Linked DNA regions of Homo sapiens. The protein of the gene in region 1 purifies or fractionates together with the protein of each later gene. This does not show direct contact. Each region holds a gene or a part of one and is shown on either strand. Other genes may lie near its edges.

Region 1 (3,652 bases):
GTTTAACATAGTCCTCTGACCACTGTATTTCCTATAAAGGTAGTTAGCCCAGAGGCCTAATCAGATTCAGATTTCAGTTTTGACAAAATTTATTTATAGATAACATTATATACTTCCTGTTGCATCACATCAGGAGGACATAACATGTTGGTTTTTTTCTGTTTTTGTGATATTAAGATTGAACAGGGAGTTCAGGTATTGCCAGCCTAATCTATCCTTAAGGTTTTCTGTCAGCTTTTCACCTAATAAATTTAGCAACCCATATTTTAGTAGGGGTTGCAAAATGGTGACATTTATTTTTCACTTATGAACTAGAATAGTTCTGTAAAGAACTTTCCCTCATCCTCTGTTTGGTTATGCTGAAGTATGGTTTGTATAAGAAAGGCAGAATAAATGCTTGCTTATTTTCCCTTATTTATTATAATACTTTTTAGAATAATGAATTTGTTCTCTGTCTTCCCTTGAATTGTTTTGTCATTATGAATGTAGATTTAGATATATTTTGTGTGTTTTAATCCATTGTAGTTATTCTGCTTATTGATGAACAAAATGTTCTATCTTTGGCTAGTGAGAGCTTCTTCAAACTGGTTCCTGAGATCTTTTGATGTGACCTTGGTAGCCTAATAATTCTTTTGGTTTCAGCATTTTCTTATTCTTGAAATTATCTTGGTTTAGCTACTCAAAAGTAGCTTTGTGTTTTTTAAAGCTTAGAATAATAAAGACCCTTTTGGGAAATATTATGTTATTTTCTTATCAACAAAGACTCAGTATTCCACTATAGTCAGTTTTAAGAAACATCTTTATTCTATGTTACTTTCCTGTACATAGAGAGGCAACCCTATAATACAAAAATTTAAGAGAACTAGCTTAACTTTAATTAATTTTTAAATTTGAGTATGAGTAACACAATGTGGGCTGCAGAGTATAGCTGAGTTAAAAACAGAGTTTTACTCTAGCTTTATAATTTGATTTCTCTGAGATGATTTCTAAGACTGTTCTATATTTGGAAAAAATATATATAAACAGGTTGCTGTTTAATAACAGCTTATTTTTTAAAAATGTGTTGAGCAATGCTTTTATATTACAGGTGCTGATCGGATTGAATTATGTTCTGGTTTATCAGAGGGGGGAACTACACCCAGCATGGGTAAGTGTCCATTTTTCCCAGGTTTTCTGATTGGAGTTCATAGAGCCTGGAAGCAACTGATAATCAGTTTCGTTGGGGTCCTTTACTAATGTCATGTTAACTATGTTATGGATGTTGTATCAGAAATGTTTATGATTGTAAAAAAATCAAAGATTTGATCAAACATATTTCTTTCTCACATCAAAAAGTTGAAAGGTAGGTAGGTAATTGTTAATACCGGTTCAGCTGCTCTGTAGTAACATCAAGGATTAGGCTTTTATAAAATCTTTCCATGCTGGCATCCTTAGTATATTGAAATCCCCTCCTGGTCTTTGTGCTATTGTTGTCATATATTTTACTCATACATATATCAAAAACTCCATGCTGTATTGTTAGTTTTGTTTGAAGAGTCAATTATCTTTTGTTAAATAAGAGATTTAAATAATAAGAAAAAAATCATATATTTACCCACATGCAACTACCATTTCTGGTGTTCTTTATTCCTTTGTGTAGATCCCGTATTTCTGTCTGGTTTCATTTTCATTCTGCCTGAAGTACTTTCTTTAACTTTTTTTGTTAAAAAGTATGCTAGTGATTCATTCCTTCAGCTTTTATATGTCTAAAATAGCTTTTTCCTTCATTTTTGAAAGGTATTTTTGCTGGGTATAGAATTCTAGGTTGACAGGTTTTTTTTTTCTTTGAAGATGTTTTTCCATTGTCGTCTTGCTTGTATTGTTTCTGACAAAAAGCTATCATCCATATCTTTGTTTTTCTCTATGTAATATGTCTCTTTTTTCTACCTACTTTTAAGATTTTTTTATTATTGGTTTTGAACAATTTTCTTATGGTGTACCTGAGTATAGTTTTTTCATGTTTCTTGGACCTGTGCATTTATACTTCTCATCACATTTGGAAAATTTTCAGCTTGCAGCTTGTTCTCCACTCCCTCCTTTAGAGACTTAAGCTATTCTTACATTAGACTACTTGAAATTGTCCCAAAAGTCACTGATGAACTTCTCTATTTAAAAGAAAATCTCCTTTCTGTGTTTTCATTTTGCATAGTTGCTATTGTTTTGTCCTTGAGCTTACTGACCTTTTCTTCTGCACTATCTAATCTGCTATTAGTCTCTCCTGGTATGTTTTCATCTCATACATTGTAGTCTTCATCTGTAGAAATTTGAGTCTTTTTATGTCTCTGATGTCTCTTAACTTTTTTGAACATGTGGAATAAAGTTATGATAGCTGTTATAATGACCTTGTCTGCGAATTCTAACATCTATATCAGTTCTGGGTTTGTTTCATTTGATTTATCATCTAATAATATATCTTATTTTCCTGCCTTGTAATTTTTTATTGGATGCAAGACATTGTGAATTTTACTTTATTGGTTACTAGACATTTTTGAATTCCTACAAATGTTCCAAAACAGTTTGGTCCTTTTGGGTCTTGCTTTTAAGATTTGCTGGGCAAGTCTGGAGCAGTGGTTAATACAGAGCTAATTATTCCTTACTACTGAGTCAGGATTCTTCTGTGAACTCTACCCTGTGACCATGAATTTTGAAATTTTCCTGTCTGGCTGGTGGAATAGGCATTATTCACAGCTTGGTATGAATGACAGGCACATTATTTCTAATCCTTTTTATTGGTTCTGTCCCAGGCCTTGCGTAGTTTCTTTGCATGCATGCACCGGTCAGTACTCAGCTGAATATTAAAGGAGGTTCTCTGCAGACCTCCAGAGTTATCTGTCTTCCTTTCTTCTTTCATTCCTTCCTTTCCTTTCTTTTCTTTCCTTCTCCTTTTCTCTCTCTTTGCTTTCCTTCCTTCCTTTTTTTCTTTTGACAGGGTCTCACCTGTTGTCCAGGCTTGACTGAAGTGGTGTGACCATAGCTCCCTACAGCCTCAAACTCCTGGGCTCAAGCAATTGTCCTGCCTCAGCCTCTCAAGTAGCTAGGATTACAGGCATATGCCACCATGTCCAGCTACATTTGTTTGTTTGTTTGTTTGGTAGAGATGGAGTCTCACCATTTTACCCAGACTGGTCTTGAACTCCTTGCCTCAGGCAATCCACCCATCTCAGCCTCCCAAAGCACTGGGATTACAGGCATGAGCCACCGTACCAAGCCTATCTTTTTTAAAAAAAATCCTTTTTTTAAACCATTGAGATAGTCTTTGCTACTCCAGTGTTATCTTTCTGTCCTCCCTGTACTGTCTCCTATAAACTCTAGCTACTTCAGTCTTCCTGAACTCTAAGCTTTGTCTCCTTAACTCAGGGAATTGTTTTGGCTCCATGTGGGTCCCCCATCCCTGTGCTTTGGCCTAGAAACTCTCAAGGCAGTAAATTGGGTCAATCAGAATTGACTTACTAACTTCATTGTTTACCATTTTCAAGGATCATTGCCCTTCACTGCTTAATGTCCAGTGTCTTGCAAACCACTGTTTCATATATTTTGTCTGTTTTTTTATTATTATTATTATTATAGGTGGGAGGGTAAATCCAGTCACTGTTACCCTGTCTTGGCCAAAAGC
Region 2 (2,836 bases), on another chromosome or scaffold:
GCACCGTCTTCGGCGTGCTGGCTAGCCTCTGTGTCTCGCTCAACGCCATCTACACCACGAAGGTGCTCCCGGCGGTGGACGGCAGCATCTGGCGCCTGACTTTCTACAACAACGTCAACGCCTGCATCCTCTTCCTGCCCCTGCTCCTGCTGCTCGGGGAGCTTCAGGCCCTGCGTGACTTTGCCCAGCTGGGCAGTGCCCACTTCTGGGGGATGATGACGCTGGGCGGCCTGTTTGGCTTTGCCATCGGCTACGTGACAGGACTGCAGATCAAGTTCACCAGTCCGCTGACCCACAATGTGTCGGGCACGGCCAAGGCCTGTGCCCAGACAGTGCTGGCCGTGCTCTACTACGAGGAGACCAAGAGCTTCCTCTGGTGGACGAGCAACATGATGGTGCTGGGCGGCTCCTCCGCCTACACCTGGGTCAGGGGCTGGGAGATGAAGAAGACTCCGGAGGAGCCCAGCCCCAAAGACAGCGAGAAGAGCGCCATGGGGGTGTGAGCACCACAGGCACCCTGGATGGCCCGGCCCCGGGGCCCGTACACAGGCGGGGCCAGCACAGTAGTGAAGGCGGTCTCCTGGACCCCAGAAGCGTGCTGTGGTGTGGACTGGGTGCTACTTATAGACCCAATCAGAATACGGTGGTTGAGAAGGAACCAGTGTTTACAAGTAATATCAGAAAGTTGAAGGAACCAGTGTTTACAAGTAATACCAGAAAGTTGCCAAACCCTTCTCTATCCTCTCGTATTTCTGAGTTTTTGTCCTTCCCGAGGGAGCACCCTAGTGAGAGTTGAACCCCTTCCTTCTGCCTCCAGGGCCTGTCTGCCTCCACATCACTCTGAGGACAGGGACAGGCAACAACCTTGAAGGGACAGCAATGGCAAAGCCACAAAGGCTTCACTGTACTCAGGGGAGATGGCCCTACCACAGCCACCTGGAGAGGGTTGGGAAGCCTTCCGTCTGCGGTGGGCAGGCAGCCTCACCCTGGGCCCACAGACCGGCCTTCCTTTGGAGGAAAGTGTGGCCTGGACTGAGGGAGGAAATGAGCGAGTTCCCTCTGACACCAGCAGATCCCCAGGGGCTGCTGGGCAGTGGCCTGGGAATGGGGTGGATTGTGAGAAAGTGCTCACCATCTATACACCCTGTATGTCCAGCTTTTGAACACAAGGGAACCATGCTTCTCTTAGAGGTTAAGCAGGGTCATTAACATCCTCCCCCAGTCCCTAACATCACATTGTCCTGCGTGGCTCCTCTGGCCCTGAGTGGCACCTGTCCCTCTGGTCTCCCAGCACCTGGCCCAGGTAACAGCCTTCTGAAAGCAGAGCCAAGGAGCTGCTTCTCTCTTCTCCCAGTTCTACCTCCCCAGAAGCCTTCCTCCCCAGGTGGGGCTGATGGAGCAAGGGTCCAGACTAGGAGCCTTCCACCCCAGCTGTGTCTGGCGCCCCTAGATCTCTGCAAGGGAGGTGTTACAGCTGGTTCTGAGCCGCTTGCCTTGTGATGGTAAGACACCAACCTTTACATTCTTCCCTGAGGTTGTGGCTGACAGAGCCTGCTTGGCCCCACTGTTAGTCCAGCGAGCTCCTATATCAAAATGCCGTAGGCCGGGTGGCTTACAAACAACAGAAACGTATTGCTCACAGTCCTGGGGGGCTGGGACGCCCAAGATCAAGAGGCCAGCAGATTCGGACTCCGCTGAGGGCTGTTTCCCGATCCATAGATGGTGCCTTCTCGCTGTATCCTCAATGGTAGAAGCACAAACAAGCAAGCTCCTTCCTGCCTCTTTTATAAGGACTCCAACCCTGTTCATGAGGGTTCCGCCCCCATGACCCAATCAGCTCCAAAGGCCCCACCTCCTAATACTGTCACCTTGGGGGTGAGAATTCCAATGTGAATTTGCAGGGGGAGTGGGGGACACACACAAATTTCGGGGCCATACCACCCTTCACCACACCCTCCTGCGCTCAGGGTGGCTTGCAGTCCCTGGCCCTTCTGGTGGGCATTTGGTATGTCCTTTCTCTTGGGGTGATTTCTGATGTTTTTACTCTATATAGTGAAAAGCTAGGGAGAGCGGGTCTTCTCCCCCCTCCCTCTCCAGTCCCCTCACAATCCCAGATGGGTTCTAATGCAGCTGCTGGGGCCTGATGCCCTGAGTTGTTTGTGATTCAATAAAGAATCCATAAGATCCTGTGTGTGTGGCCTGAGGGAAGAGGCAGCAGGGCTGGAGAGGATTTGTGAACAGGGCCTGGGGGTGGAGGGGAGGTTGGGACCTGTCAGAGGCAGCAGGGCTGAAGAAGGTTTGTGAACAGGGCCCTGGGGTGGAGGGGAGCTGGGGATCTGTCAGGAAGGAGGGCTCATCCCTGCCTTCACCAAGCCCACCCACCAGCAGGCAGCCTTTCTAGGAGCTGGTTCTTTCTAAGGATACCAGGCTCCTTCCTGGAAGGTAGGTGACCAGACTTGAAGTTTCCTATTAGTCGTAATTGCCATTTACTGGATGCTTGTTGGGGGCCATAGGCTGTGCTGAGTGTTGTACATCCACCCTTGTGAAGTTGAGAAGTTGTGAAGTTCATCTTCACAACTCCCCGTGGCCCCTTAGGTGGGAGCCGTCACTGATCTGTTTTTTTTACACATGAGGACACTGAGGCTCAGAGAGGGCCCCAGGAAGGAAGAGGCAGGAGGAGGATTCAGAGTTCTGTGCCTTCAGAGCTTGGTACTTAACTCTACCCCAGCATTCTGAGTCCAATACCCAGCACTGTTTTTTGTTTTTTTTTTTTAACAGAGTCTTGCTGTGTCACTCAGGGCTGGAGTGCAATGGCGCGGTCTTGGCCCACTGCAAC
Region 3 (4,300 bases), on another chromosome or scaffold:
GGATAGGAGCCACCGCCAAAGAAAACCGCCCATGGTAGTTGCACAGTGAGATCTGAAGTCAGAGTATTGCTACATAGTATTAACTTTTCAGTGAGGTATTTTGGAATGCTTACAACTGTGAAGCTCAAGAGATAGATTAATGTGAAATCTCTAAGTGAGTTCCTGAAAAAAAATTGAGAACAACAAAAACAATTTTTTATATATTTAATGCTAAGCAATTTAAAAAATGTTTTCGGACAGGTGCGGTGGCTCACGCCTGTAATCCCAGCACTTTAGGAGGCCGAGGCGGGCCGAGGTCAGGAGTTCGAGACCAGCCTGGCCAAAATGGTGAAACCCTGTCTCTACTAAAAGTACAAAAATTAGCTGGGTGTGGTGGCCTGTGCCTGTAATCCCAGCTACTCGGGAGGCTGAGGCAGGAGAATCGTTTGAACCCGGGAGGCAGAGGTTGCAGTGAGCCGAGATGGCGCCATTGCACTCCAGCCTGGGCAACAGGGCAAGACACCATCTCAAAAAGACAAAAAGTTTAAAAAATTTTCATATGCTCTATTTTATTTGAGTCTGTCACCTGCCTGATTTAGGGATGGTGGATAGTATTATTCTCAGTTTGCAGGTAGAAATATGAAGACTTATGGAGACTAAGTGACCTGTACAAGGGCAGGCAACTGTACAACTGGCATTAGAGTAGTCTCAGACTCAAATCAAGACTTCTGATTTGAAGTTCCTTATTTTCCTCTATCGCACTCCATTAATTTATTTAATGTACATTATTGAACACCAACTATTTCAGGTACTGTGTTAGGTGCAGCATATAATAAGAAAGTTGATAATCTGTCTATTTTACAATTAAAAAAAGAATGTGCAATACATGCACTTGGGGAAAAATTCAGTACAGTAACTGCTACTCTTCTCCCCTCTCCCTCTTCTCCTAATCCCTCTCTCCTGATATAATCACTGTTATCTGGAAATCTTTGACTATACAGGCTAAGTCCCCTGTATCTGCCGCGAGGTCCTTCCTGGAGGTGCTGACTGGACTAGCTGATGTTGGCTAGATGACCGCCAACCAGATGACCTTGGCTAACTGATCTTATCCCTTGGGCCGCTGTGGCACAGGATGAGTGAGCTACGCCTGGTAACAAGAGTGCCACTCTCGTGTAAGGGGGCTGCGAAGTAGAAAGGAGGCCAGCCCTTTGGAAGATGTTTCTAGAGGGTGTGGGCAGAACCAAGTCTCGGTAGTTAGGAAGATCTTGGCTCCAAAGTTTAACTTGCAGCGTCCCGGCCGGGTTCACAGCGCATGGGACAGGGGGGGCGGGGCGATGCGGAGGCGGAGCGGGGCGATGCGATGCGGGGCGGAGCGGGGCGGGGCGGCGACGCGCGGCGCGGTGCGGCGCGCGGCCGACGTGGCAGCCGCAGGAGCATGCGCCGCCCGTGGCCATCTTGTAGGCGGGGACACGCCGAGGTAACTTCCAGGGTGCGCCTTCGTTGTCTTCTCCAAGCTGTAGTTCTACGTCCCGACCTCCCTATCATACCACACTCTTCAGCGACCACGCAGGCACTTTCCCGGTCCCCAGGTGAGCGCCAGGTGGCTCCGAGGGGCGTGTATGAGGGGGGTGGCATGGCATGGCATGGCTTGCAGGCGCCAGAGCCAGACCCCGAGGGACGGTGTCCCTGGAAGGTGGGCGGGCCGGCCGGCGCCACTGGACGCCGATGTCGTTTGCGAGCCCCCTAGTCCCGTGGTCCAGGCTCAGCTGTGGCGGCGTGCGGGGTGCAGCAGGCAGGAGTGCACATCGCAAGGTGAGCAGTTTCCGCTGGGGATGGCACGGTGGGCGCGGTTCGAGGGTCTCGCCCCGCGACACTTTGCTCCTGTCCAAGGACCAAGGCAGGAGCGCTCTGGCCCCACCTTCCAGGGCGCTGACTTTAGGGGAGACTGGCGGGAGCGCCGGCGGACCTTAGCCCGGCCCTGTCTGGCCTGGAGACGTGGCAGAGCCTGAGGGGAAGCCGCTGTCTCCTGAAACAGGATTTCGGCCGCTCTGGCCCTGGAGAGGCCCAGGAGGCTCGAGAGTCATCACACCAGGACCTGCAATGAAAGGAAGCTTATTTTCCCTGAGGTTACCCCATCGGTGCTTAGCGCCGCTTGGGAGAGTTTTTGCATTCTCTCGTTTCTTTGTTTGGTCTTGGGACCTGCTTCAGGCAAATTTGCAGATAGCACGTTTCCTAGATTGACAGAATTTATAGCCAATAGTGTTTTTGTCATTCGAAGTAGTTATTTTGAGAGACAACATGTGCATTTCTGCGATCGTGACACATCTTGGCATTCAGTCTTTCTCCTGTGCAGCCAGTGTTTAATTCAGTGAAAATTTATAAAATTTTATTTCGGGGTCAGATTAGGCTCTAACTAGCGCTCACTGTTTGGTAGTAGAGACAATCTTGTGGCACGAGTAGGTCAGCAATAATTGCTCTTAATGCTTTAAAGTTTATCAGAGCTTCACTCTTCCATTTCTTGTAAACTTGTAAATAGACATCCACTTTTTTTTTTTTTTTTTAACAGAAAAACCAAGGCACAAGCAAATTGGAACAACAGGGTCTAGCCGGACTGAGAACTCAGTTTTCCAAACCATTTTCTTCACTTTTTCTTTAGTGTTGATATATGAATAGTACTTTTCGTGACAAGACTTGAGCCCTAAAACAGTTACCAACTCTGACACTTCAGTATTGTTTTATCATAATAGGTTTTTTTAGTAGAAGGCACTATGTTTATGCATGTAAAATTTACCTCAGTATTGCCATTACGGCAGTTTTCATATAAAAAGCCATTAAAGACAAAGAAATTGATTATTTATTCCACTTAATGACTTTGTATTCATTGTACAGTTTCTTTTGCAGACACATTTGTTAATGTTAGGGATTCTCTTACAATAGGACTTCTACTAGTCATTGTAAGGATTGGGGAGCATCTGTAGTAGAGGGTGAATGACCAATAAAAAATTAAATGAAGAAAAGAGGGAGCTTTGGTTGAGGAGTGGTAAAATCTCCAAAGGGGCATTTCTATCTCAGGTTATTTACCTTCGATGTATAGGTACTGAATGAAAGGATTCAGCCTCCCCGGATCCCTGTTCTCTGCTTAGTGCCATAGATCTTTCCTACGTTCACAGCCAAACTTTTTGAAAGTGTCATGCGTGTTAGTCTCACCTGCCACTGCTCGATTCAGTTTACACTGGAATCTTTCTCCACTCTTTATATGAAAACCGTTCTCCCTAAATTCATCTCCAGTTTGGCAGATCCATTGAACTTCTCAGATAGTATCCTATTTGGCTTCTCTGCAGCATTAATACTGTTGCCCATTCATACTGCGAAACTCTGGCTTTTGGACACCACAGTCTCCTGGTTTTCTTCCTTTCTTTTAGCTCATCTCTTATTCTCTGCAAACTTGTCTTCCATCTTACTAAACCAATAATTGGTTTAACATCATATTCTCTTTTCTCTTGGTATTCTCTTACGTAATCTCATCTCAAAACATGACGTTAGACTATCAGTACACTGATGACACCCACATTTATGTGGTTGCTAAGCTCCAGACCAAGTCAGTGTCTCTACTTAGATGTTTGTTTCAAGGAACTTAAACAGCATGTCAAAGACTAAACATTTTATGATTTCCCCCATCCGACTCCCCCAGAAAGAACATCAAACACATTGGCCTTCTGCAGTGTTTCCTATCTTTGTGCATGGCACCACCATCTATCTAGTTGTGCAAGTCATGCCTCCTTTCCCTTCCTCCATACCCAGTCACTGAATTTTGCCACCTAATCTTGTCTTGAACTTATTTACTTTTCTCCATCTCCACTATCATCACTTGAGTCTAGGTCAGAGTTTTTCAACTTTGGCACTATTGAAATTTGGGGCCACTTAATTCTTGTGTGTAGGCTGTGCATTGGAGGATTTTTAGTAGTATTCCTAACCTCTTCATGCTATATGCCAGTAGTAGCCCTCTAGTAGTGACAATAAAAAATGTCTTGGACATTGCCAAGTGACCCCTTGGGGGCATAATCAGCCCTTCCCACTATGAAAATCATTAGTCTAGGTTGTTACTTACTTCTGATGGAACTACTTCTATATCTTCCTTAATGGCCTGTCTGCATCTGCTCTGTCTGCCCAGTGGCCCAGGCTGCATACTTTGTTCAGATCTTTTCAAAAAATAAATATGAATTGCTAATAACTGGAATCAGCCTAAATGTCCTTCAGCAGGTACATTTATACAATGGAATACTATTCAGCAATAAAAAGGAACCAATTTGATATATGCAGC

Evidence for each region.
Region 2: the proteins of CUTC (region 1) and SLC35C1 purify together in Homo sapiens (affinity purification with mass spectrometry; one large-scale study listed by BioGRID and IntAct). This does not show direct contact.
Region 3: the proteins of CUTC (region 1) and PRRC1 fractionate together in Homo sapiens (co-fractionation; one large-scale study listed by BioGRID). This does not show direct contact.

The regions. Positions count from the first base shown.
Region 1 is NC_000010.11:99,738,623-99,742,274, forward strand, and holds part of CUTC (copper homeostasis protein cutC homolog), read left to right. Parts: intron 1-1,087; coding exon 1,088-1,147; intron 1,148-3,652. UniProt on the Homo sapiens protein: May play a role in copper homeostasis. Can bind one Cu(1+) per subunit.
Region 2 is NC_000011.10:45,810,833-45,813,668, forward strand, and holds the end of SLC35C1 (GDP-fucose transporter 1), read left to right. Parts: coding exon 1-503; 3' UTR 504-2,184; downstream 2,185-2,836. UniProt on the Homo sapiens protein: Antiporter specific for GDP-l-fucose and depending on the concomitant reverse transport of GMP. Involved in GDP-fucose import from the cytoplasm into the Golgi lumen.
Region 3 is NC_000005.10:127,516,209-127,520,508, forward strand, and holds the start of PRRC1 (protein PRRC1), read left to right. Parts: upstream 1-1,431; 5' UTR 1,432-1,568; intron 1,569-4,300. UniProt on the Homo sapiens protein: May act as a regulator of the protein kinase A (PKA) activity during embryonic development.